Linked DNA regions of Homo sapiens: region 2 is linked to region 1. The links come from fine-mapping of genetic effects on plasma protein levels. Region 1 holds a variant in brackets. A gene starts in the other region. All regions are shown on their forward strands.

Region 1 (12,442 bases):
GATAGTGCTTGTGAACAGCCACTACATTCCAGCCTAGGCAATAAAGTGAGAGCCCATATTAAAAAATTTAAATTAGGATAAAAAAATTGTAAAAGAATTATAATACATTTAATTATATAAAACTATAAATGTTATAAATGAGATAAAGTATTCAATAAAGGCACAAAGAAAAGAAAACATAAACAGCCCACAAAATTTCTAAATTAAAAATAAGTGGAAGCAGTGATGAAGTCTCAGAATGCTGTTTGTCTTGGGATGTAGTTCACTAGGGTATAAGTCTCGTAAGTTTTCACTCCCCATATCTAATAATTGCTTGGCCTACTGCTGTGCTCAAAGTACATGCTCAATAAATATATGCACAATGCAAAAGCTCTTATTTTACTTCTTTACTTTTACAATCTGAAGGTATGCCAATGTGGTAAATATCTGATGACATATCCATTAGGAGAACTCTTCTGCAGATTAATTTCTTAGGCATCTTGACAACTGTTTACATCTTGAAATATACGATTGGTCTTTGGACTTTGGACTTTAAAACAATGTAATTTATTGTCTTTTTACATTTTAACCATGCTTCCCTTTTTTCAAAGCCTCCTCTCCACTCTTTCCTAAAAGTAGATATTACTCAAGATTTTATCTTTAGCTCTTCCTTGTCTCTCAAAATCCTTATACCCAGAAAGTTCCATTCATTCCAATTTCCAATCTTCAAGTGAGGTAAGCAGGGGTCCCCACTGATACCAATACAGTCTACTAACCCTGGATACCAGCCCCTGATTATTCTACCGTTATCTCAAGTGCAACATTTCCATGAATTTGTTATCTTTTTCCTCATTCTGTATTCCCTTCCTGTTGCACCATCCATCAAGTCATACAAACCAGGCATTTGGAAGACATTAACTTATGATTTCACCTGTTCCATCTATCCTTGCCTACCCACAAGCTTCTAATCTGTGACTAAATTCCATGGGTTCTACCCCTTGAGGCACTGTCACGTCCATCTGCTTTTCCCCATTTTTGTGGTCACTGTTTCAGTAAAGGCTCTTTTTATTTTCCACAGGGACTGTTATAATAATCTTCTAACTAGCCTTCTTGCCTCCATTTGTAGTACACTTTCCAATTTGTCCCACAATGGGATGCTAGAGTCTTACTTATACTATGCAAATTTTGTTATGTAATGTACTGTCTTAAAAATCTTCCATATTTCCTCATTCTTTTCAAGATAAAAATCTAAACACAAGAATAAATGAGAGCCATTATTATCTGGTTCCTGCCCATTTCTCCAGCCATCTTTAAACAGTAATAATGATGGTTATCATAGGATGTGCCAAGCACTGTTGAAATGTCTTCATACACTATTTTATTTACTCTTTCTAGCAATCCTAGGAAGTGAGATTTAAGACCCCCAGTTTTATAAGTAATGTTTCCATAACAACTAACATCTACAGTCATGGAATAAGAAAATGACCAAGCCAGGATGTGAAACAGAGTCGGTCTAAATCTAATGCTGTTGCTCAAAAGGATTATTCTTCTTCTTCTTCATTTTTTTTTTTTTTTTTTTTGAGACTGAGTCTCGCTCTGTCGCCCAGGCTGGAGTGCAGTGGCGCGATCTCTGCTCACTGCAAGCTCCGCCTCCCGGGTTCACACCATTCTCCTGCCTCAGCCTCCTGAGTAGCTGGGACAACAGGCGCCCGCCACCACGTCCAGCTAATTTTTTGTATTTTTAGTAGAGACGGGGTTTCACTGTGTTAGCCAGGATGGTCTCGGTCTCCTGACCTCGTGATCCGTCCGCCTCGGCCTCCCAAAGTGCTGGGATTACAGGCGTGAGCCACCACGCCTGGCCTCAAAAAGATTATTTACTATTTCCCCTAAATTTCCTACTCACCTCTCCTTCTCATTCTCCATCTGTACCCTCTTCTCTTCAGGTTGTCACCTGTAGCCTTTAAGTACCTTAGAATCTATAATCACTTGTGGAGATGTTTAAAATTCCAATGGCCGGGCTTCATTCAGCTCTTGAGATTCTTAAGGTGAAGCCTGTGCATCAGAATTTTTTTAAAGCAACCCAGTTTTTTCTAAGGTGTAGCCAGGTTTGAGACCTACTGCCTAGCAAAACTAAATTATATATAGTTGTACCAAACATAATGTAACCTCCATTAGCCCTGATCCCAGTGATTGTAACTATTTCTCCCCATATAATTGTCTGTAGGGAATGTTTGGGCTTCCCACAGCTTCATGGCTCCCTTCAATTTACAATTGACATGACTGGCAGTCAGTAGACTGCCAACAATAACTTGTAAAATAAATAATTGAATAAGACTTGTTGATTGCTCTTATAAGTACTTTGTAGGAATTCTTAATGTAAGCACTGAAAATTAATATCTTGAAGTTCCTTAAATTTTGCAGGGCAAAGGGAGGAATGAAAGCACTGAAAAAAACAATTTCAATACATGAAATTATTTACACATAAAATGTGTCAGTTTCCTCCTGAGAAAAGGCTTAAAAAAAAAAAGCTCTCACTTAATTAAAGGCCAAAAAAGTTTTTTTCCCCCAAAGTTTTAAACTCATTAGCATCTTGCAGATATATGTGAAAAACTATAGTCTAGATAAAGATAACAAAGACAACAGAGAGGTCTTGTTTTCCTAGTTAACACCCTCCTCTCCTCAGAAAAAGGTGACTTTAAAAGCTACATCTTTATGCAACTGCCATTTTTTCCCCAGTGACAGAGTACATTTTCCTAATAATTAATTACTTAGTCATTGGCAAATTAAAACATCATATTACTTTGCAATTAATATATATTTAACACTGTTTATCAATAAATTAAGTTAATATTAATTATTATCAATATAATGATTTAAGTTTCTACTATTATTTAAGTTATTCATATAATTTTTGAGAAAACACTTTAGAGGTTTCTTCCATGAGGTTTTATTAAAACTGTTATAAGAATCTAAAAATCTTGTGTTTCTGCTATTATGTGAAAAATCTAAGTTATAGTATTTCAAGGGGCGATTTGGTGGGGGAATAAAATATCTAAGAATATAAAGAGAATCTGAATGACCACATAATAAAAATTAATCATGGTGAATTGCTTTGGGGAGAATCATACACTTGACCCATATTGAAGACTGAAATATTAATCCATTTCTATGACAGAGATCAAGCTTCACAGTCGCTTTTTATCCTCCTCATCATAGAAGCAACAGTTGTAAACCATAATGTTATAGTTCAAACAATGCCCCCCCAAGACTCCAAATTTATTATAGCATTCATCTCCAAGACAAAAGACCTGGTGTAGGCAAAAAGCTCTTTATAGCAAAAAGCATGGTTGTTATTTATGGCTCAGATGCAAAGAATGAGTTTGGGGAATTTATCAGAGATGAAGGTATGAAATGTTTTAGCTTGTTCTTCCCTCTCTAATCCATAAACCATTTTCTCAGCCACCCAAGTGAATTCTAATGGAACAGAAATGATGAAATAATATTTTCCTAGCCCTTTAACACTTTTCCTTCTGTATAAGTTTCAGTGGGATGAGAAGAATATGTTTTATAATATAATTAAAAATATTATAAGTAGCAATGAAGCAATATTTTAAAATAAGATATAATTTAGCTCCATAGGCAAAGTTTAGCATTTTTAAAAAGTTTAATTTTTACGTATTGAATTCTGCAATTTCCTATTATTAGTAGTATTAAGAGTACTATGGGCTATCATATAATTAGAATTTCAGAATGTTAAGTATATTCTCATTAAAATCATTTAAAGAATATAAGCCCCATTATTGTCTCTCCAGTCCCAGCGATTCAATCACATTACTTGACCTCTTTCTTTTAATATTCTTCACCATTAATTCTACCTTCATCGTCACTCTCCTTGAATAAGACATGCCATAATCAAAACAAAGATGACTCATAGATTACCTACTTTCCATCCTCACTTTTTGGAACAAGTATAAGGCCACAAAAAGATGTCGATTTCTCTAATGACTAGGCCAGGGAGAAAGCTTACTGCAGGTAGGAAGGTTTAGGATGTGCCAAGATGTGATGAAAGTTCATGCTTTATTCTTACAGATTGCCTTTCTTTTCTTTCCTCTCTGGCCTATGTCAGAAGGGTGTATTGCTTTCTTATGATGAAAACATATTCAACAAATGTGACTGGAAAAAAGTATGAAATGTATTAATATTTGCTCTCAAATAAATAAGATGTTTTTAAAAGTGTTGCAGTTACAGTTCTACAGCCCTGAGCACACTGTGAGCTTCATGGATGACATATTTTTTCTTCTCTAATTCAAAAGACAGGTAATTGTAGAACAAAATAAGGCAGCTCAAATAAATACAGAATAATCTTTAAGCTGGAAAACTTTTCTGGCATTGTTTGATAGATGTTATACTAAATCTATTGTTTGCCAAATTCCATTTAAATTGCTTAAACAGCTCTAGGAAAATGTGGACTCTGTCTGTACAATTTTTAACATCATAATTTGCAGAATTAAAAACAATCCACCACTGAGTTATTTGACATCACGCATTTTGATTGCACATTTTCTGAGTCTTGGAGCTTTTTTTCTCTTAGTTGTGATACTATTTCCTTTGCTACAATTTTCATCTGTATTACACTACTTTATCTTGACATGGAAATAAAAGTTAATTAGTTTCTATGACAACCTGTGCATTAAACATAGCAGTTCTCTCAGATTTGTAAATACATGCCAACTTAGTATTCAGAATGCAACTTGTATAAGCATTCAGTACAAATAGTGTGAGTTTGTTTGCAGTTAAGATAGAATAGCAACTTGAGCCAGATGACATGATTCATTTGAGTATACAGCATCTGTGAAAGATGTCCTAAATTTGTCATCTATGTACCACATACTCTTCATATTTAAAGCTACAAATGCCTTTATAATTTTTTTTTCTTAACCACATTAAAGATTCCATATAAAAACTCTACACTAAAAATCTTCTAGGTTTATTCTAACAAAGTGCCAAAAATAGACCCTTCCATTTAGCCTATGAAGTGTTGCACTCTCTCTAAAATAGTAGTTTTCAAACTTTTGTGTGCAATAGAAACACCTGTGGAACTTCATTAAAAATAAGAATTTCCAGGTTCTGCTCCTAGAGTGAGAAATTAAGTATATCCAGGATGAGACCAATAAATCTACATTGTTATCAAGCACCTTGGTTGAGTATCATGTGCACTTTGTGAGGGTCACTTTTCTGAAAAATAGTAGATTGTATATCAGACAGTTTTTAACCAAATGTAGTAAAAGATACTTTTAAATCATCAAGTTATCAGCATACCAAGATTTTAAAACCATTGTGAAAAAGTACTCCTTATTCTGTACTGAGAGTATAAAAATCACAGTTCTCACAGCATTCGTTATTCTAATTTCAACTTTTTAGAACAATAAATGATAATCTCATAAAGAAATCCTCCAGAAGACCAAATATATCAGTTATTGGTTGAAATTAGTAATATGTGACATGATCTTATGCATAAAAACCTTTCACAAAAAGCAGATGATTTACATGAATAAAAAAAGAGGCTAAATTTTACTATCCACTATTTTCTATGGACAATATTCTTTTGCCCTCATGGCAAAGGCAAGCTCTAATACATTATGCTTTGGGATTCTCATCAGAAACCTATAAACAATGTATAACTTACAAATGTCCTTCAGTGCATTAGAATACTTTTAGTACAGCTTTAAAATTTTAAATCAATTCTGCCATTCACTCCATATTATTTATCTTCAATTTCTCCATATTTTAAATGTCACTGTGTCATATTAAGTAATAAAAAGTTTAAAAGATTATAACCTGAACTTGGCAGATATGCACTTTCATTACAAGGCCTGAAATCCTTGCCTTCGTACGTTTTCTCTACCAGAGTCTTACTTCTTATCTTGTTTTCATTTTTGAATGCAATGAAATCTTCACACTCACCGAACAGTCTAAAGTATCAACAATGTTATTTTAAACCAATTCTAATAGTAAGTTAACGGTATTTAAAATATTTGGCTCTTAATCAGACTATTTTGTCACCTCTTTTAAAAATTATCCTATTATACAATATCAGCTGAAATTATCCATCATTCTGCTAGTCTTAAATCATCCTTTAATTCTATCAGTTATATTATTCACATGCCCCGTAATCCAGTAACATTTCATTTTCTTCAATCTGAAGCTCAAGAAGGAAAGAACGCATTTAAAGATTAATTTTTATGTATGCTCTTGTAACAAATTAAAACTAAGTGACATAATAGGCTTTATTATAAGAAAATTATGTGTACCAAAATGTGCTTGGGTAGAAAACGTAATTTATTTTCTCAGAACGTCCCCCTAAAGTAGGTGTTGTTTTCATTAAGTTTTTTTGCCTTTTAAAGGCCATAAGAAACTGAATTAACTAAATCTAGTAAATTCCATGTAAGCATTAAGTAACTCAGAACTCAAAGACTTATGGCAACAAAACTATGTACAGAATAGCCAGGTGCCTCTTTCCCTCCAGTGCAATACTGATCTTTCCTTGACTACATGGTTTTTGCTGTGACACCACTCTCATTAGATTGGAATTTGTGTTAACTTCCCTGTACTAGGACTTACTAATAGGATTG[C/T]TAGCAATTATTATACTGAAATGAAATCAGCACAAACTATTAGATCTGTTTAAACAAGTTAAAAATAAACCTTGATTAAATGTTCTTTTATAAGAAGCTGCTCATTAGGGCTACATGGCCTTCAGAAAAATTGGTGTTTCATTAACATCAAAGAATGTACTCAGTTTAAACTCCCTAGCCTAAAAAGTTACATAGAAAATAAAGTTTTAAAAATATTTTAGATAATGAAATTTTAGGAAAGATCTTCCTTATAGCTCTTGGTTTAGTCAATAGAAAGAAATATACTATTAAGAATGAGGAGTATTAATAATGGAATTATGAAGAAGAACACCACCAGCAAATGCAAAAAGAAGCAAAAGGATAAATAAATAAATAAATAAATAAATAAATAAATAAATAAATCTTTGCCAGAATGACCAAATGACAGATTTCTTCTAAGCTGAGATACAAGTCGGCCACGAAATTGTTGAATTAAAAAGTCACTTAGTATTTAAATGCAAATCAGTATGTCAATTTAAGTATCCCTGCATCCATTTTTGCAACTAATCAGTAACTTTTGAACCAAAGTAGAACTTACAGAACTCTAGAAAGGGCAAGTATCCCATTCTAGAAAGTAGAAACAACATTTTTCTTGTTACAAAGAATCAATGAACTGTTATGACCTGATTTGGTGGAAATTATTCTGTTGTGATAGATAACCTAACATAATTAAGATATAGTGTTGGTAAATGTTAAACATTTTTATGGGCTACAAACTCATAGAAAGGATTTGAGTAAAATTCTTATTATTCATCTTCTTATATCCATATCATTACACACACACACACATACACACACACTCTTTATCTCACTAAGAAAAGGTAAATATTACTGTATAAAGGTAAATGTTAGTTACATAAAGGTGGGTTACCATTTATGGTTGAAGATGAGTAAAGGATGAAAAAAAAAAGCCACTATAATTAAAAGTCCAAGAGAATCATCAAACATTGAAATTCACAATAACGTGTTATCTAAAGTTACTGGCAAGTTGATCTATTTAAAGATTACAATTTACTATCCTTAAAAGGGTTTTAAAATAAAATAATTCATTTTCTGAACTGTACATGTATTATTCTAAACAAACCAAGCAGTAATTACAACTGTAAATTAATCTCTTCATATAGACTGATATCCTCTACAGTATACTTGCCCCTTGCCTACACAGTAATATGAATATGTTCTGATGTTTAAAAGGAATAAACCTTCTAGTTTGAGTAATTAACATTCCTTAATTAAACATACTAAGGAATAGACAATGGGTTCTTTATGAATATGTGAGCATGCCTAAAAGCAACAAAATCACACTTTTGTTAAAGCATTTGTGTGTATTTTGCACAATTTTTAAAAGTTTAACCTCTGTAGATCAATGTGCTTCCTTAAAAGACTTTAATAAATTAAAGTGCAGAGAGCTTTTTTTCACCAGGCAGAAAAAGCTGATGAGACAGGTTTAGTTTAATCTCAGGCAATAGAAGTCATTAACCATTCTCTCAGGGATTAAAATATAGCTTGCCCTTTTCTTCTCTCACTTATCATTAGCATCACTTTAATCTCCTAGCGTTTCACACTGCTATTTTAATCATTACTTACTGCCTTTTGACAAGTGCAGAACATGCTTTTTCTCATTGAGGCAATATCCTGGTTTTAGCTGACAAATGTAGGACATAATGTAAAAATATCAAAGTGACATCTCTTAAACACACCTTCATCATAAAAACTCTAAAGTTACAATATTCCTTTGTCTAGTATTTCCATGAAAATTATCATTTGAAAGGTTTATATCTTAAATAAAGAAAAAAGTTTCTTCCAAATACAACAAAAACTAGTTTAGAGAAATAGTATGCTGAATAAATGAGATCTAAAAATATGCACATACATGTTATTCTTACTCTCTAAAATGTATACTCATGAACTGCCAAGTGTTTACAAAAGCAAAATGTTGTTTCGATATAACTATAATAACAAAATATGCTATATTGAAATGCCCACCCAATTACCATTTAATGCTTTATAATGATACTACATAGTACATATATCCTAGGTTGAGCAAAGTGCTGCAATGATTATCCCTAATTCTATTATTTTAAAATATGTACCACACCTCTGCTGATTGATAGATACTATGTAATTCTTGCGGAAAATTTAGGTAGAAATAACAATAGTTACAACCATATTCATATGTAACATCTGAAAACCTATTAAGAGTGTTACTACTGAACTTTCCGCTACATTTTCAAAATTGCTAGTTTAGATAAAAGAAAAACCATATGATGTTTGTTAATGTTCTTTTATCTAATGACATTTAGTTTAATTTACAGAATCTCTTTAATCTAATCTGCCTAAACCTGAAGTGGATAACAAATTTGGCATAAGTCTTTTGAGATCTGTGAATGTAAGTTTTATATTGTCTTTAGATATAAATATTACAAGTCTGAGAATATATTCTAGCATTAATACTGTGTTCTATTTTAACTCAAAACTAAACCAATGAAATGTTTGGTAATTGTAAAACCTGACTTTTTAAACCAAAGCACCAATTTTTGGTAACGATCACTAACACTTGGCCCCAAGACTTTTAATCTAGTCCATCTGTAATGATCTCATAGTACTTTCAACCATTATTTAACTGTTAGAAGAAAAAATATGTCGCACTATATGTTTCGACAATAAAATCCCTTCTTAAGCTTCACAAAGCAGAACAATTCATTATTTGATCTCTTTCCAGGTTCAAAGTCTGTCTTATTACAGTACTTCAAAGAAATATGTAATCAAAGACAAACAGCTGTGAAAACAATCTTTTATTACTTTATTATCATTGAGAATATATCTTTGGAGTAAACCAGTGGAAATAGCGTACAAATAATCTTCATAAAGGTTGTTGTTTTGCATTTGTTCACAAACTATGCATGTTTATCTTTAAGGCTTTAATTTTACTTTCTATAAATAGAATAATGGCACAGGCCAGTCACTCTATTGCCTGTTTAAAAAAAAAAAAAAAGGAACAATAGCAACAACACCACAAACAAGTTAGCTGCTCCAATGTCAAAGAAATGTTTTTAATAAACAAATTTTCAAAATGATATTCAGTGATGTGACTCCCTGGGTTAACATTGCCCTGAAGTGAAATTATTTTTTTCTGGTGTTCATATTAATCAGTTAGATTTGCAGAATTAGTCAACTACAAATTGGTATACACAACTAGAATGCATACACCTAAAGTTCCACTGAGTATTCTGAAAACAGATGCAAAATCAAGCAATTAGCTTCTAAGGTAGAAGCTACATTGCCAAAATTATCTTCATATTTTACACATCACACAATAATCTGGTCATGTCTATATTTCTCAGTATGGAGGGTTTCTGTTATCAACATGCAAATAGACTGGACAACATAACATAGTGTTCTTTAAATGGGAATGACTCTCTTCATCTGCAGCCTTGTGAGACACTGTAGGTTTCAAGGTAGAAGTGATGAAGTCCTGCCATCCCACTACAGTAGAAAACATGTGGAGGCAGAAGGAAGAAACACCTCCTGAGTGCATATTATATGGTAGAAACCGTATAATTTAGTTATGATACCAACCCTTTGAGGAAGTCATTATTTATAATCCATGCTTTACAGATGTGGAAACGGATTTTAAAAGCTTAGTAACTTTTGACTCATTCTTGGGTTAATCAGACTCCAAAGTCAGTGTGCTCATTGTATTAGATCAGAATGCTGTCCATTCTAGAACACACTTTCTAGGTACATGTCCTCAAAAGGCACTATAATCTCTAACAAATCCAACTCTTCTTCAGAAAACCATAAGGCATTATGGTAGACAGGGACAAAATAGGTCACTGTCATTTTCTATGAAACTAAATTGATGATTCATCAACACAGGCCATTGTTAGAAAGATCATTGTTCCTAGGTCTTTACAAACATATCGCTAGGCCAAAAGTGATGTGAAATCGGTGCCATCTTGCTTACCAAAAGATATCACTGAAAGGTGCTACAAGAATGCTCCCCTAGCAGGGCATAGTGGTTCATGCCTATAATCCCAGCACTTTGAGAGATGGAGGAAGGAGGATCTCTTGAGGCCAGAAGTTCGAGACCAGCCTGGGCAACAGAGCAAGACTCCATCTCAACACAAGCTTTTTTTTTTTTTTTTTTTTTTTTTTTTTTTAAATTAGCTAGGTGCTCGCCTGTAATCCTACCTACTCAGGAGGCTGAGGCAGGAGGATTATTTAAGCCCAGGAGCTTGAGGCTATAGTGAGCCATAAATGCATGCCACTGAACTCCAGCCTGGGCAACAGGGCAAGTCTCTTCAAGAAAAACAATTGCCACCTCAAATTGACAAACTGAAGAAGACAGACAGATAACAGTTATTCTGGTGCCATGGCCATATAGACAAACCAGGTAATTAAGGCTGTGATATAAATTTTTAAAAGATAATGGTATGTTCATTTCACTTTCTACTGTCTTAGTACAATCGCAAAATGATTTAATATCTTTGTATTGGTTTTAAAGTTTTGTCTCTAAAAATAAACATAGATACATATATAAACAAATGCATATTCACACAAAGATATATACATTAGCTATGATATGTTCTTATGTATTTATATGTAACATTGTCTTAGTTGTAAAATGTGAAGTCTAAACTGAATATAGTTGTCACAGACATTCCTTTATATTATTAAGATTATTTGAAGGTCACTGACAGAGGAAGGAAAAAATAACACAATGATAGGCAGTAAACAGAACTGAATTTAAATTTTTTGTTATTGCCAGTAAACATAACTGAAAAATCTAACATCATATTAGTATGAACATTAGTATTTTCAATTTTAAATAATACATTAAAAAATTCCTAGAGACTCTTTGCCAGCCAAGTGTAGGGATAATGGAGAAAATGGAATTGCTTATTTGAAGTTATGATCCTTCACTTCATAGCACAACTTGGTTTAGTTTTATTGGTTACTAAATAAGCAGTATAAGAATTAAAAATGAATTTAAGGCATGACTCAATTTCCATAAAAGTTAATTTCTTGACTTTTCAGTTTGATTGTTATCAAAAGTTATTCAGTAAAAGGGCGCAAAACAAAGCCAGTCACTCCAGCTTTGGAATAATTAAGCAGTAATTTGACCAAACATTTCCTTCCTTCCTGTGTATTTCTCAAAGTCACTATTACACTATAAATTTTAGCAGAACCATTTTTAATGGGCACAATCTATGAGGGAAATAGTCCATAGTAAAATGTTTCACAACCAAGGTTGGCAACACCATTATGAAGTCACTTTTTACTGCTATTTTTAGGATGTATTCAAGATAAACTTTTGATTTTCAGGTTTTTAGAAAGGTCAGATTATAGAAGTGAGAGTTACCATGGCTAATTTTGACATGTAACACCTATGTATAATTGAGTTTATTAATTTTGGAAATACCTAAAGAAAAGTTAAATAGTATGGTATTATAACTTTAGATGTTATTTTAATGCAATATTTTCTTAATATATTGATTAATAAAGAATTAGATCAGTTAATGCTAATTCATTGTTTCCATTTTGGGTGATGCTATAATAAGCAATAAAAAAGGAGAAATAACAGTCTTAATTCCTAAGAGTCCCTGGATCATTTGCTTTCATTGAAAAGGTATCATTCATAAAGTCATGTGAAATAATCTTATACAGCTGCTTTTTCACTTTTTGAGGGTACCTTCTTACATATCATTTCATTTCATACTGAATAAAACATATATTTAAATTTTACTTACCCAGATAGAAAAACTAGCATCTTTTCTACACCCCAAATA
Region 2 (12,442 bases), not on the chromosome of region 1:
GAAGAATTGATGCATAATCAGTTTTGCTTCCTTGATTCACAGACAAAAATAAGTTGCCCTTAATAGGAAAAGTCACTGTGAAAGGATAAGATGTGACACCCACAGTTTTAACTTTCAAAGATTCACATGAAATCTGTACCTATAACAGATCATAAAATATTCACTCACTCTAGTTAAATTATTCTGTTTTTACGAAGGCCAACTGTCAAACCAGGATGCAGCTTTTTGCCATGAAAAATAAGGACTGTAAATATTTCACAGGGACTGCAAACATTTTATTTTATATTTTAAAAGTCAAGTCTACACTGTTAAGTGATAAGAAATACTGATGGACCATGTGCTTAGACACTGTATGGAAGTGGGGCTGGGTAATGGAATGTGATTGATACTCATGTAGAAGTCAGGGACTTGTTCCTCTAACTGCACCTGTGCCAGCAAATAGCTGTATGACCAGAGGCAAACAATTTTGTTTTTCCATGGTCTCAATTTTGTAATATATGAAATTTAGGCCCTGGGTTAGGAATACTCTTAGATGTTTTTCATTTGTGAACATTTTTTAACTTTATACTTCTGAACAGAAGATAATGTATTACTTAGGTAAAATAAACTGTACTGAATGGGTCTTGCTATATCTTACTTGACTTGAAGACAACTTCAAAATTGAAACTCATTTATTAAAATTAAATCAGAAAAATGCATAAATTCCTTACCTCTACAATTCCTATTTTTCCATCATCTCTTTGCCCATACTGATCCACAAAAGTTTTCATTTCAGGTGATAACTCCTAAAATTATATAAAAGCAGGTAGGAGGTTTGTTAAAAAAATACCAGTTATGCTTGTGATGGTGTTAATAACTTACTGCAAAGAAAAACCAAAATTAGAACCATTTAGAAATATGCATAATGATTAACTATTCTCAAAAAAATTAAAGGCATAACTGATACACAGTATTTATTAGTTCCAAATGAAAGAGTTGTAATCATGATTATTTCTCAATTAATATGATTTATCTTCTATTATTAATTTTGAGACTATGCTATCCTTTGAAAGTGTAGTCAGAATCATTCCATTCATAACTTTTAGTGAATTTTAACATAATCATCACCATCAATATATTTTAAACAATGCTTGCTTCATTAAAGATTACCTTATATTGCTACACTATCTTGTCTTACAACATTTTTCTCATTCTAACATAATGTTTTATCTATGGAGAGTAATATATGTTTTCATTTTGAACAAGCAAAAAATGTGAATGTTAAAGATTAACTCACTTTGTAAGCAAAGATTGTTTTAAGCATAAAAGAGGCATTCATCAATTAAATAAATTTAAAAATTAAATAGATTAGAGAGCTATGAACTATAAACTAGTGATCTGAACATAGAACTGGTATTCAGGAGGTTTAATTTTTACCCTTGGGTCTCCAACATAGCCCATTTAAAATAGCCCTGTTGCATTAGCTGAAGCCTATTTAAAATAGGTCAGCCCTTACTAATGTTCTATTCTACGTCCTTGGGAAAGCAAATTAAGGTCTCGGTTTTCATCATAGCTAACAAGATGGTGGTATTATCTACCACACAAGTTTGCTTTGGGGATAGATAGGTTAATATAATTAAAGGGCTATATTGAGACTAAATATCATTATTACTAGTATTTATAAAAGCCGTTTGGAACCAATGTAGACATCTTTAGTTGAACTAAGATAATAAATAATAACAAAGCAATATAATTATATTTTAGTCTTTATAAAACTTACTATGGATAAATTACAATTTGTATTTATCTAATTTTGTTATAGAAACAATTGTAAGAAAATGAAAGTGTTCAACCATGGCAATAGTGGGAATATCAGGTCCTACAGTTTTTTTATTTTTACATACATCTTAACGTAAACAAAAACCAAAGCATCTGTCCTTAAATTTTAAAATGGTGTAATACCACTACTTTCACGAGCAGACTTGACATTTACTTTGTGAAGTTTCTGACAAGTATGTCAAAATCTATTTTTTAAACAGTGCAAAACATATAATCACCACCAATTAAAAATGTATAAAAATGAGTGCAACTACAAAGACCAAACACTATGTTTAGTGTAAAAGGATAGTTTCTGAAAATATATTGCATTGTTATATTTAATTAATGTTATATTCACCTAGTGAAAATTTTGAAATTTCATGTTATTAATACGAAAAGCCAAACAATGTTTCCATTAATGCAATGAAATCTGTTATCCTATGGCTAGAAATGCAAAAAGCCTGGTTTATAAGGGCAATTTTTATGTTCTAAAGAAAGAGAAGAAATATATACAAGTAGGTTTAATGCAATGAAGTTAGTAGTATAATGAAACATGTATCTACTATATGAAACTCTGAATCCACATCTTGATTTAGATTTTAACTACCCAAATCAAGAAAAATACTAAATTCAGAAAAATCCAGATTGTATTTACATTCCAGAAAAATGCTCAAGAATCAAGGTATTAAGCAACTTGATATAATCCTATAACTATGCTTGTTTAGTATCATTACATTATAGTCTAATAATTGGAGCTTTGAATATTCCAAAACAGAGAAAAATAATTAAATTCTAAATCTCCAACATGAAGATATTGCTTACAAAAAGGTACAAATATTAAAATCAGAGGAAGAAAAATATTTTTTTAAAGTTCATGAATATTTAAATTTCTAAGCTGAAAATAGATTTCAATATTAAAATTACTTCTGCACAAAATAAAATATAATCATTACCTGCTGGAAGCATCTTCCAAGGTTTTAATTCTAAATTTTATGGAAAGTAAGACTTTTCCAACCTGATTTTAAAATATGTATTTTTAAATGAGGAAGATAATTGCTTTTATTAGATTAGCCAAAGATATATAAAGCTATAATGACAGTATTGCATAAATTTATTTACATGGCAATATATAAGACATGGGGAGGGTGGAGAGTATATAAAACATTTTTATGCTATTTTATTCCGTTCTATTATACTTTTAGATTATATAATATTAAATCTGGGTAAAACAATCCCTAGAGCACAATCTGGTTTAAAATCAATTTGGTCAATGATTTTTGTAACTGATAGTTCTATAGTGCATTATAATACATTTAGAGCCCTCTGGGATTCTTTTGAATATGCTGTACAGAAATGTATATTACACAATTTTCAATTTAGATAGGGCAAAAAGTTCTATTATTAAATTTTATATATATCACTCAATATTAGAGGTGGTGATCTGCTATATAATATATACATCATTGGTAGTGTAAAATCTCTTTCTAAACGTAGTCAAAAAGGCCAAAGACCATTAACGTGTAACTCATCCCAATTCAACACTGCCTTCTGAAAGGCAGTGTTACATAAACCTCAATAGAGTAGTACAATTTTTAACCCATTTTCCTCTGGACAACCATCTCATCTATGTTTAAAAGCTGACTGTATTTTATATTTATGCTGACAACATATTTTCTTAACAGGTTAATTTATGCCCAAAGGGAGTCATTTATAATTAATAAGAATGGTTATTTGTTTAATTAACTAATGGCTTAAATAACGAACATAGCCATTTTCAAAACACCATCAATTGCTGCCCATCAGAGTATCACTTTGCTTTTTTTACAATACATGAAATTCTTAAAATTGTTTTACTTTTTACTTCTCTACCTTTTGGGTTTCTTGCTTTCAACAGAAATGAAGATCTTTTCTTGCTAAATTCTTTCTCACTGTTAGGTTGCAAGTTGGGCAACTTACCCTTAGTGAGGACAAGATGTTTTCTCATCTCCCCAACTACATCAACATCACAACAATAATAATTGGTGATAGAGTAAGAGATCCATAATCTGCAGATCTGTTTCTTGACCACCAAGGGGCAGAAATGCATTTCCACCCCCTTATTTCTCACACAGTAAAAGAGAATTTAAAAATTACCTAATCAAACTCAGTGGTAGAGGTGGTGATCCGCTAAAGAATCTCATGCACCCACAGTTCCCTTTTAAGACCTATTAATGCAAGTACTAGTATAGAATATATATATATTTAAAGCTCCAGTTTCAGATAGCAAGGTTTTTCCCTTTAGAAAATCTGTCTCTCTCTGTCTGTCTCCCTTTCTCCCTTCTTCCCTCCCTTCTCTGTCCCTCCCTTCTCTCTCTCTCTCTCTCCCCCTCTCTCTTTCTCAGTCTCTTTCCCCTTTCCCATTTCTCTGTATTCGAGTTGGAAAAGTGTTTTTTCTTGCCTTTCGCAGTCAATAAACGTTTACATTACCCAGAAAGCGCTTTACGCTACTGGCTTTTTGTGAAAACACAAGAATGTTTTAATTTGGGGGTTAAAAGTCTTTTTTTCTTTTTCGCAAACTTGAACCTACCAATCCAGCCTTCTTTCGCGCCTGCTGGAGCTCCTGGATCAAGTTCTGCAGCTCCTTTCCTTCCAGGTAACCACTTCCTGCAAAGACAAAGAGGCACCCAGGTGTCAGATATCTCATTCCAAGTGTCTTTCCCGTTCACTTTCCAAGACAGTTATCTTTCTGGCGACCCGAGAGGCTCTCTCTTGCCTGGACGTTGATTAACCAGCAAAGTGTACAGACGGTGAAGCGCTCCCCTCCTGGGGTATCAAACTTTAGATCCACTGAGGACAAAGGAGGATGGTTGGGGTGCTAAGCGCAGCCACAGAAACTTTGGGGGGGCAGCATTCCCCAATCCCTGCTCTCTCTCTCCTACCATTACCGTTCCTGGAAAGACAAAAGTTTAAGGTTTTGGGATTACGGTGGAAACAATATAAACTTTCAGGTTGACAGTTTGGCGGCCAGTCGGGGAGATAAGAAGATAAGATTAGGCAGAAGGGGGAAGAAGTAAAGAATAGAAAGGAGGGATAATGGGATCAGGAGGCTCAGAAAAGGGCAAAGAATGGGAAGGGGCATGGAAACGGGTCTTGAAACAGTTAAAAAGAGAAGATAATCACCGTCAGCGTCGAAATGGAGCCAGATCTCGAAAAACTGTGAGGCTGTGATGAGGGATGACTGCAGGTGGGATTCTGCCATTGTACAGCGGGGTGTGTGTCTGGGTGTGTGAATATGCGTGTGTCTGTGTCCGCGCGAGGGGGAGTGAGCAAAAGCTCAGCGTGTGCGCGAGTCAGGGCTGCGGAGGGAGACCTGGGCGCGGGCGCTGCCGGGCGCTGTCCTCGGTGCTGCTCAGCTCAGCGTTCCTCCAGAGTTCTCTCCCTACACCCCGCACCCAGTTCTCAGTATTTATCCCGACGGCCCCAAGCCGGGCCACGCCTCCTCCAGCCTCCCATTCCTCACTCCCCGCCTCTTGCTCTCACCAGCCTTCTTCCCCTCCCTTCCAGTTTTCTGCTCTGTTCCCAGGAAAGCTAGCTGGAGCGAGAGTTTGGGCTTGTTGGAAGCAGCAGGTGGTGGGAGATCCTTTGCTCAGAGATTGGATGCTGAAAACAGAGGCTCATTTCCCCCTACATCCTCCTAGTCCAGGAAGAATCTTATTCCTGAATATTATAGTAAAACTCTTGTTATCTAGAGAGGTTTAAATGTTCAGATAGAAGGGGAAAGCTGATGACGGGTAAAATCACATAAAAGATTATTATATTCTTGTGTGATTTCTCCAAGACTTTTCAGTATTTGTTTGAAAAAAAAAAAGCATGTGAAACCTTGGCACGCATTAGAATAATTTGATTAATGTATACAATGAGTTGATTGCTATCAATAATCACTCTATTTTGTGCCATCATGTCAATGTTTCTTAAGATGGTTTCTATGAACTAACCTTGCCAACACGAAAAAAGCTAGATTATGGATTTCTTTTCAGCATGAAGTAGAATTATAATTGGAAAGTAATACAGTTAAATTATAAAACCTTAAAATCTTAGATAAGGAAGTCATCTTACAGATACTAGAGTTTACTGCCTTTCAGTTTAGAAGGAGTGAGTAAACTAAAACAAAGAGAAAGGAAGGATCTGACCAGGTTCATAAGTAGGTACGTTAGTGCTACCACCACAGCCCCATTCAGTCGCCTTAACACACACGTCTCCTTCTTTCTGTTTCAAGCAACCCCTACTGGAGAATTTTTCAGAAATTGGAAGTCACCATCAGAGTTGGAAAAGCTATCTAACTAAATGTATGCTATGTTATGTATATATATATATATATATATATATATGTAATATATATGTATGTATACACACATATGTATATATGTTCTGTACTATATATACATATGTATATGTGTTATGTATTTTAATATAATTAATTATATACTTGGATTATTTCTTATTTACATAAGTACTTCTGGAGTATTTGGCTTTGAGTCTTTTGGACCTTGAAGTCCACTAAAAATGTATCCCAAAAGTCTAATTACAATTGTACTAAAACAAAATGAAGGAACAAGAGAAAATCTACACATAGCCAATATAAGCTTAAAGTGAATTAAAATGAATTTACCGGCCGGGCGCGGTGGCTCACGCCTGTAATCCCAGCACTTTGGAAGGCCGAGGCAGGCAGATCACAAGGTCACGAGATCGAGACCATCCTGGCCAACATGGTGAAATCCCGTCTCTACTAAAAATACAAAAATTAGCTGGGCATGGGGGTGGGCACCTGTAATCTGAACTACTTGGGAGGCTGAGGCAGGAGAATGGCTTGAACCTGGGAGGCGGAGGTTGCAGTGAGCCAAGATCACGCCACTGCACTCCAGCCTGGTGACAGAGCAAGACTCTGTCTCCAAAAAAAAAAAGAGAGAGAGAGAATTTACCAAGCTCTATATTCTTAACCTTGTGTAATTGAGTTTGGGACCCCTCAAATTTATGTTTTTGAGATTAGGGCTCTATCCATTATTATATTTGTGGAGTTTTTTTGTAAGTATCCTTTTCAGAGACCCATCAATTTGAAGCTAGCCTATTTCAATAATCTTCTTAATGGAATCCTCACTTCCATAGTACTTTCCAGTTCATACATTATTTTTACTTATGATACCTCATCTGATTCTCACTGATGGTCCTATTGGTCCTATGTTAGTGGCCAGGGTCGCTGTGTGAAAAATATAGTGTGTGAACTTGGAGACCAGCGCTAGAGAATAAACTTTGAAGAGAGAGTGAGAATGCAGTGACTAAGGAATGACTTGAAGAATCACTCTGACCCTTGCTAGTCTTGACAGAGCTAACAATGTCTAGACTTTGGATACAGTTCTGAGACAAAGAAAAATGCTAGAAAAAGTATGTAGGAATATGGACTGAACAAACTGATGAAAAAAGAGCAACATTTCTACTATTTTAAAAAGTAATTAAAATTAATTTTCTTCCTAAAAAGAGACCACACACTGTGGTAAAAATTCCTAAACATTTTCACCATAATCTGTTTGTTGGTTTTTTAGAATTTTATCTTAACTTCCAAAAGTATTACAAGACAATTTGTAAAAGTTAAAAATATTTATATGAAAGTAATCTTTTTTCTTATTCACTTTCCTGAAGCTATGGCAACTTCCAAATTTCCATTTAGAAATGTATAGGTGCTGTGACTTGAGAGAGAGTGAGAAATAAATGGGAGACTTCCTTGGAACTATGTCCAAACAGCAAGTTTGGACATAGTTTTTTTTGTGTGTTCTTTTTATGTTTATATGAAGTGGCTTTTGAGGGAACTAATGTAGATTATGGAGCTCTAAAGCAGTTTAGTGCTGCCCCTACCATGAGGTAATCAACACTAAAAGAGCCATGCTTATGGAAATATACAAATCCATATCTAAAGGTTTTTTTTTTGTTGTTGTTATCTGGTTTTACAGAAAAGGGACTATGTTTTGTATATTATCCTTCAACTTTCTATTATTAATTCAAGGGCATCCCTCCAGTATTAACATCAACATCTAATGTATACTTTTTACAGTTTAATATTTTATTAATTAACTATAATTACAGATATACGGATCTATTTCTAGTAGTACACTGTGACACACAATGCTGCAATAAACACCTTTATACATTTATATTAGCTATACATGTTTCTGAATACAACAGGGCAGAGTCCCAAAAGCAGTATTTTTAGTTAATAGAATGCATATTTTAGATTTTAATACACATTTCCAAATTATTTGCTTCAATTTGTAGCAATTTATACTCAAATGTCCAAAGTCTGAGGATGATTTATCCTCATTAACTCTGAATGTTATTGCTTTTTAAACTTTATACTAATGTAATAAGTAAAAAGTAGATTGTTATTCTTCCTTTAATTTTCATTCAATATTAATTTTTTAAAATTTACCTTTTGGTTTTCTAAGGTGAACTTGTTATTCTTCAGATATTTTTTCTAATGGCAGAAATGTAATTTCATAAAAAGTGTTTTCCCTTAAAATTGTTATTGGTCCTGGACTGTCACTTCAAATCAATATCTCTTTTCAGATGTATATTTGGGCCATTTCTAGATTAAATTATACTTTATGGTAGTAGTAAAGAACTGTATAATCCAGATCTACAGATTTGAGGTAACTTGAGGAATATTTCTTCCCTCGTTCATTAACTAGGTAGGAAGGACCTTGCGCTCAGGAATCTTTTAATTTCTAGGATTCTGGGGAGACTACAAATGCTTTCAATAATGAGAAGATTTTTCCATAAGATTGGAGTTTCTAAAAACAGCATTGCAAACAAAGCATTTTTATGACTTGCTTTATAGGCTTCATTACACAACATCAAGGTGAATGGGTTCATAATCCAATATTGTTACAAAAGTAGAAGCAATTTATGTTCCAAAAAAAAATCTCTGGGGTAATTAAACTGCATTTCCCATTTCATGTTACTGAATTACCACATCTCCATTCATATTCAGGCTACCACAGTTCCAATTCACTATGCAAATTGGAAGACTTAGAACTTCCCAGGTTTAATGAATGCTTTCTTAGCCTCCACTCAGGAAAGAAAACCCTCCAAAATATTTTACTATGGGTTTAATTGGATGAGGAGTATAATGCATCACTCTCTCTTGGCATCCTAGTCCCTCACGGAGGTGTCCTTAATAGATGAATGAAGCCTGCTGGGGGAGTTCACAGTTTTACCTATTAATGTTCCCTGAAAGATCCCTCATCAGCATGATACTGCCATTTGAAGAACTTTTCCCCCAAAGCGAGGGATTTGCATACATTTGGTCAGAGAAGTCTGTCGCCTGGGCTGGCTAGGTAAATAATTATTTCATTCTGGGCACCAGAAGTTTTTTTTTTTTTTTTTTTTAAACTGACCAAATGTAGCTCATATAGGGCACAGTAGAAAGTCTTGGAAACAATGATATGTGGCAAACTGTGGACTGAAATAGGAAAGTGTGGCTTGGAGTTGCTGCCTGCAAGTATTTGCAAGGCTTACATAAGAAGAGGTGGCAGATTTTCTCAGAGACACCAGAGGTGACTTTTACTGCCCTTTAAAAATACTTCTCAAATTTGAGCTCTTCTACAGCAATGGGTACTACTGCATGAATGGTACAATTCCCCCATAAGAACACTCATTCACTTACTCAGAAATATTTATTGACTACAGTATATTATTCAGGATGCTACCACAGTAAGCAAGACAGAGTCTTGGACCTCACAGGATTACAGTTTGCAGGGAAGAATGTAGAAGTAGAAGCTGAATGGCCAGCTTCTACTGGGAGTGTCTTGGAGGGGATATACACACTGAGGGTGTTTTGACTTTATAAATTCTGTGATCTCTTCCACCTCTTTAATTCTATAATTTTGTGACTGTGCCTACTCTGGTAGTTTTGTGATAAGTAGTATGCATTTGCAAAATTGATTTCTAGAAAGGATTATAGACTGTGGCCTTGAGCAAAAATGATTTTCCTGGTTATTAACTGGCACACTTGGGATAATTTTGAAGTCCTTGGCCTCATTAAATTCATCTAACCACCTGAATTACAAAAGCTAGAAAATACTGTTACAAATATTTTAATTTACATTAATTATATTTTCACTCTTCAAAGATAGAGAATCCCCTCATATATAAAGAAAAAACGATATAAAAATGAGTCAGATTTTATAGTTTTTATGTAGTTACCTAAAGTCATCAGGCTTCTGCCATTGATACCAATTTTTTCATCAATTTTAAACTCCACTTTTCATATTTTATCTCTGATATGTGATGCATCTTATAGCCAATGCTCTATAATTGGCAAATTGATATATGATAATCATGCATCTTAAATCGATTGTATTTTAAACTTGAGCAAATTTGTTAATCTTCAAAAATTTCAGTGGGTACCATTTGCATGAAGAATAGATTTTAAGTCCATAAGCCTGGACTCCAAAGAACTTTGTAATATATTTTCTGCCTTATTTGCAACACTGTTCTATAATATTCAACTCTCTAGTCACAAAAAAATAAAATTTAAAAAATCTTATATATTTTGAGAATGTCTTTGCTCATGTTATTCTCTTTTTTGGGAAATTTCCTTTCCTTCCTTCTTCAGCATTTTTCTTTTGGAGTATTATCCATCAGCAGCCTTGCCCAGGTATAGACTGTGCCAGCTTGTTCTCTCTTGGCCTCTCGCCAAGGGTAATACTTCTGTCTGTAGAGTATCTTTGAGTAGTTTGCTATTCTCTGTCTTCCCTGCCTGGACTCTCAACTATTGGACAGTTATTTATAAAGTGGTTTCAAAGGCCCAACTTTAAATCCCTCCTTAGACAACCGGTTGGTCCCCTGCTCTGGGAGATAACCATATTGATACTGAAGTTAGTGCAGACATCCAATTTGCATAGCACACTGTAGCCCAGAACCCTTGAGCTGAAATGATCCTCTGTCTCAGCCTCCCAAGTAGCTGGGACTACCAGCACATGCCAACACACCTGGTGAGTGTGCTCTTTCTAAAATACATACATGACCATGTCCTTTCATCCAGTGGTTTCCCATGGTATGGCATATGAAATACCCTCTAATTTCACTTGTCCTCTGATATCAGTTTTCTCAATATTCTCCCCCCACCTCATTTTTTTTAAGGCTGTACTGAATTACTTGCTTTTCTCCAAATATTCAGTTCTTTGAATATTTTTGTCTGCCATTTCCTCTCCCTCTAATCTTCCAGGATGAAGAATCACTACATCTTAAGCTTTTCCTGACCTTTTCTTTTGTTGCTCAAAACTGATCATTCCTTTATTTGTACTTCCACTAACCTTGTACTTACTTTTATTATAAAATTTATTACATTGATATACCTTTAGGATTGTACTTCTCCCTTGTCCATGAGTCCATAAAGACAGAAATGAAGTGTTCCTAATTTTTTGTCTCCTTTGTGTCAAATATTGTGCCTAGTACATAGTGAGTGTTTAACAAGATGTTAAATAAATTAACTGAGAGTTAGAATAGTAAGATTAGCATACCATATATTAATGACCTCAAGGAAGGACAATACTTTATTGCAGTGGTTCTCCAATATGGCTGCGTATTAGAATCACTCAGCTTAAAAAAAACTCAATGCCCAATTGTAAGAATATTAAATCAAAATATCAAAGAATGGGACACAGACATAAATTTTAAAATTATCCACATGGTCCAAATGTGCCAGCATCGTTGAAGAACACTGCTTAAATATTTAGTAGTTTTAATAGATTTATTGAAAGTTCACCCATTTTAAGTGTATAATTCATTGATTTTTTAATAAGTTTATAGCATGGGAAACCACCATCAAAATACAGTTTTAGAACTTTTCCTTCACCTCCTGCATTTATATTAGGCCTGCTGCTTGTAAATCTCTACTTACACTCCTCCAGCCCCAGGCATCCACTGATTCACTTCTGTTTCTATAAATTTTACTTTTCTGGACATTCTATATAAATGGAATCATCCATTGTGCAGTCTTTTGCATTTAGCTTCTAATGTTGTTAAGGTTTATCCACATTGTAACATGTATCAACATTTCCTTACTTTAAAAAAAAAATTTCCATAAGTTATTGGGGTACAGGTGGTAGTTGGTTACATGAGTAAGTTCTTTAGTGGTGATTCGTGAATTTTTGGTGCATCCATCACCCGAGCAGTAGACACTGCACCATATTTGTAGTTTTCTATCCCTCACCGCCCCACCTCACTCTTCCCCCTAAGTCCCTAAAGTCCATTGTATCATTCTTATGTCTTTACGTCCTCATAGCTTAGCTCCCACATATCAGTGAGAACATATGATGTTTGGTTTTCCATTCTGAGTTACTTCACTTAGAATAATAGTCTCCAATCTCATCCAAGTCACTGCAAATGCTGTTAATACATTCCTTTTTATGCCTGTGCACTATTCTATTGTATATCCCTTACATTTTTATTACTATTTATGTGCTCTATCTATACAATAGTATTCCATTTTATAGATACAGAATATTTTGTCTATTCATTTACCAGTTAGTAGACATTTGGATTGCTTCCTGTTATGCATTATTATAAATAATGCAGCTATGAACATTCACATACAAAACTGTGGGCAAATGTT

Direction of the effects. Positions count from the first base shown, and alleles are read on the strand shown. Strength reflects both the effect of a copy and how common the allele is.
In carriers of allele T in region 1, the plasma level of the protein whose gene starts at base 5,217 in region 2 tends to be lower than with C alone (moderate association).

Evidence for each region. A credible set is the group of variants that fine-mapping cannot tell apart. PIP is the chance, under the fine-mapping model, that this variant and not a neighbour inherited with it causes the effect. Protein levels are from antibody-based Olink assays in UK Biobank. Linkage for the fine-mapping came from a reference panel and not from the study's own genotypes, which makes the PIPs less certain.
Region 2: CALB1 starts here. The variant in region 1 is the best candidate, but not a certain one, in a credible set for the plasma level of the CALB1 protein (UK Biobank, PIP 0.50).

Annotation. Positions count from the first base shown.
Region 1 is chr13:71,764,346-71,776,787 of GRCh38, forward strand. All of the region lies in intron 1 of DACH1 (dachshund family transcription factor 1), which reads right to left. Among named protein-coding and RNA genes, the nearest start is that of DACH1, 97 kb to the right of the region's middle. RefSeq lists an enhancer at 7,503-9,753. The variant C/T (reference allele first, on the strand shown) is at 6,612.
Region 2 is chr8:90,077,663-90,090,104 of GRCh38, forward strand. It overlaps CALB1 (calbindin 1), which reads right to left and starts at 5,217. Exons shown (of 11, transcript NM_004929.4): 1 at 4,957-5,217; 2 at 4,364-4,440; 3 at 711-785. The coding sequence starts at 5,035.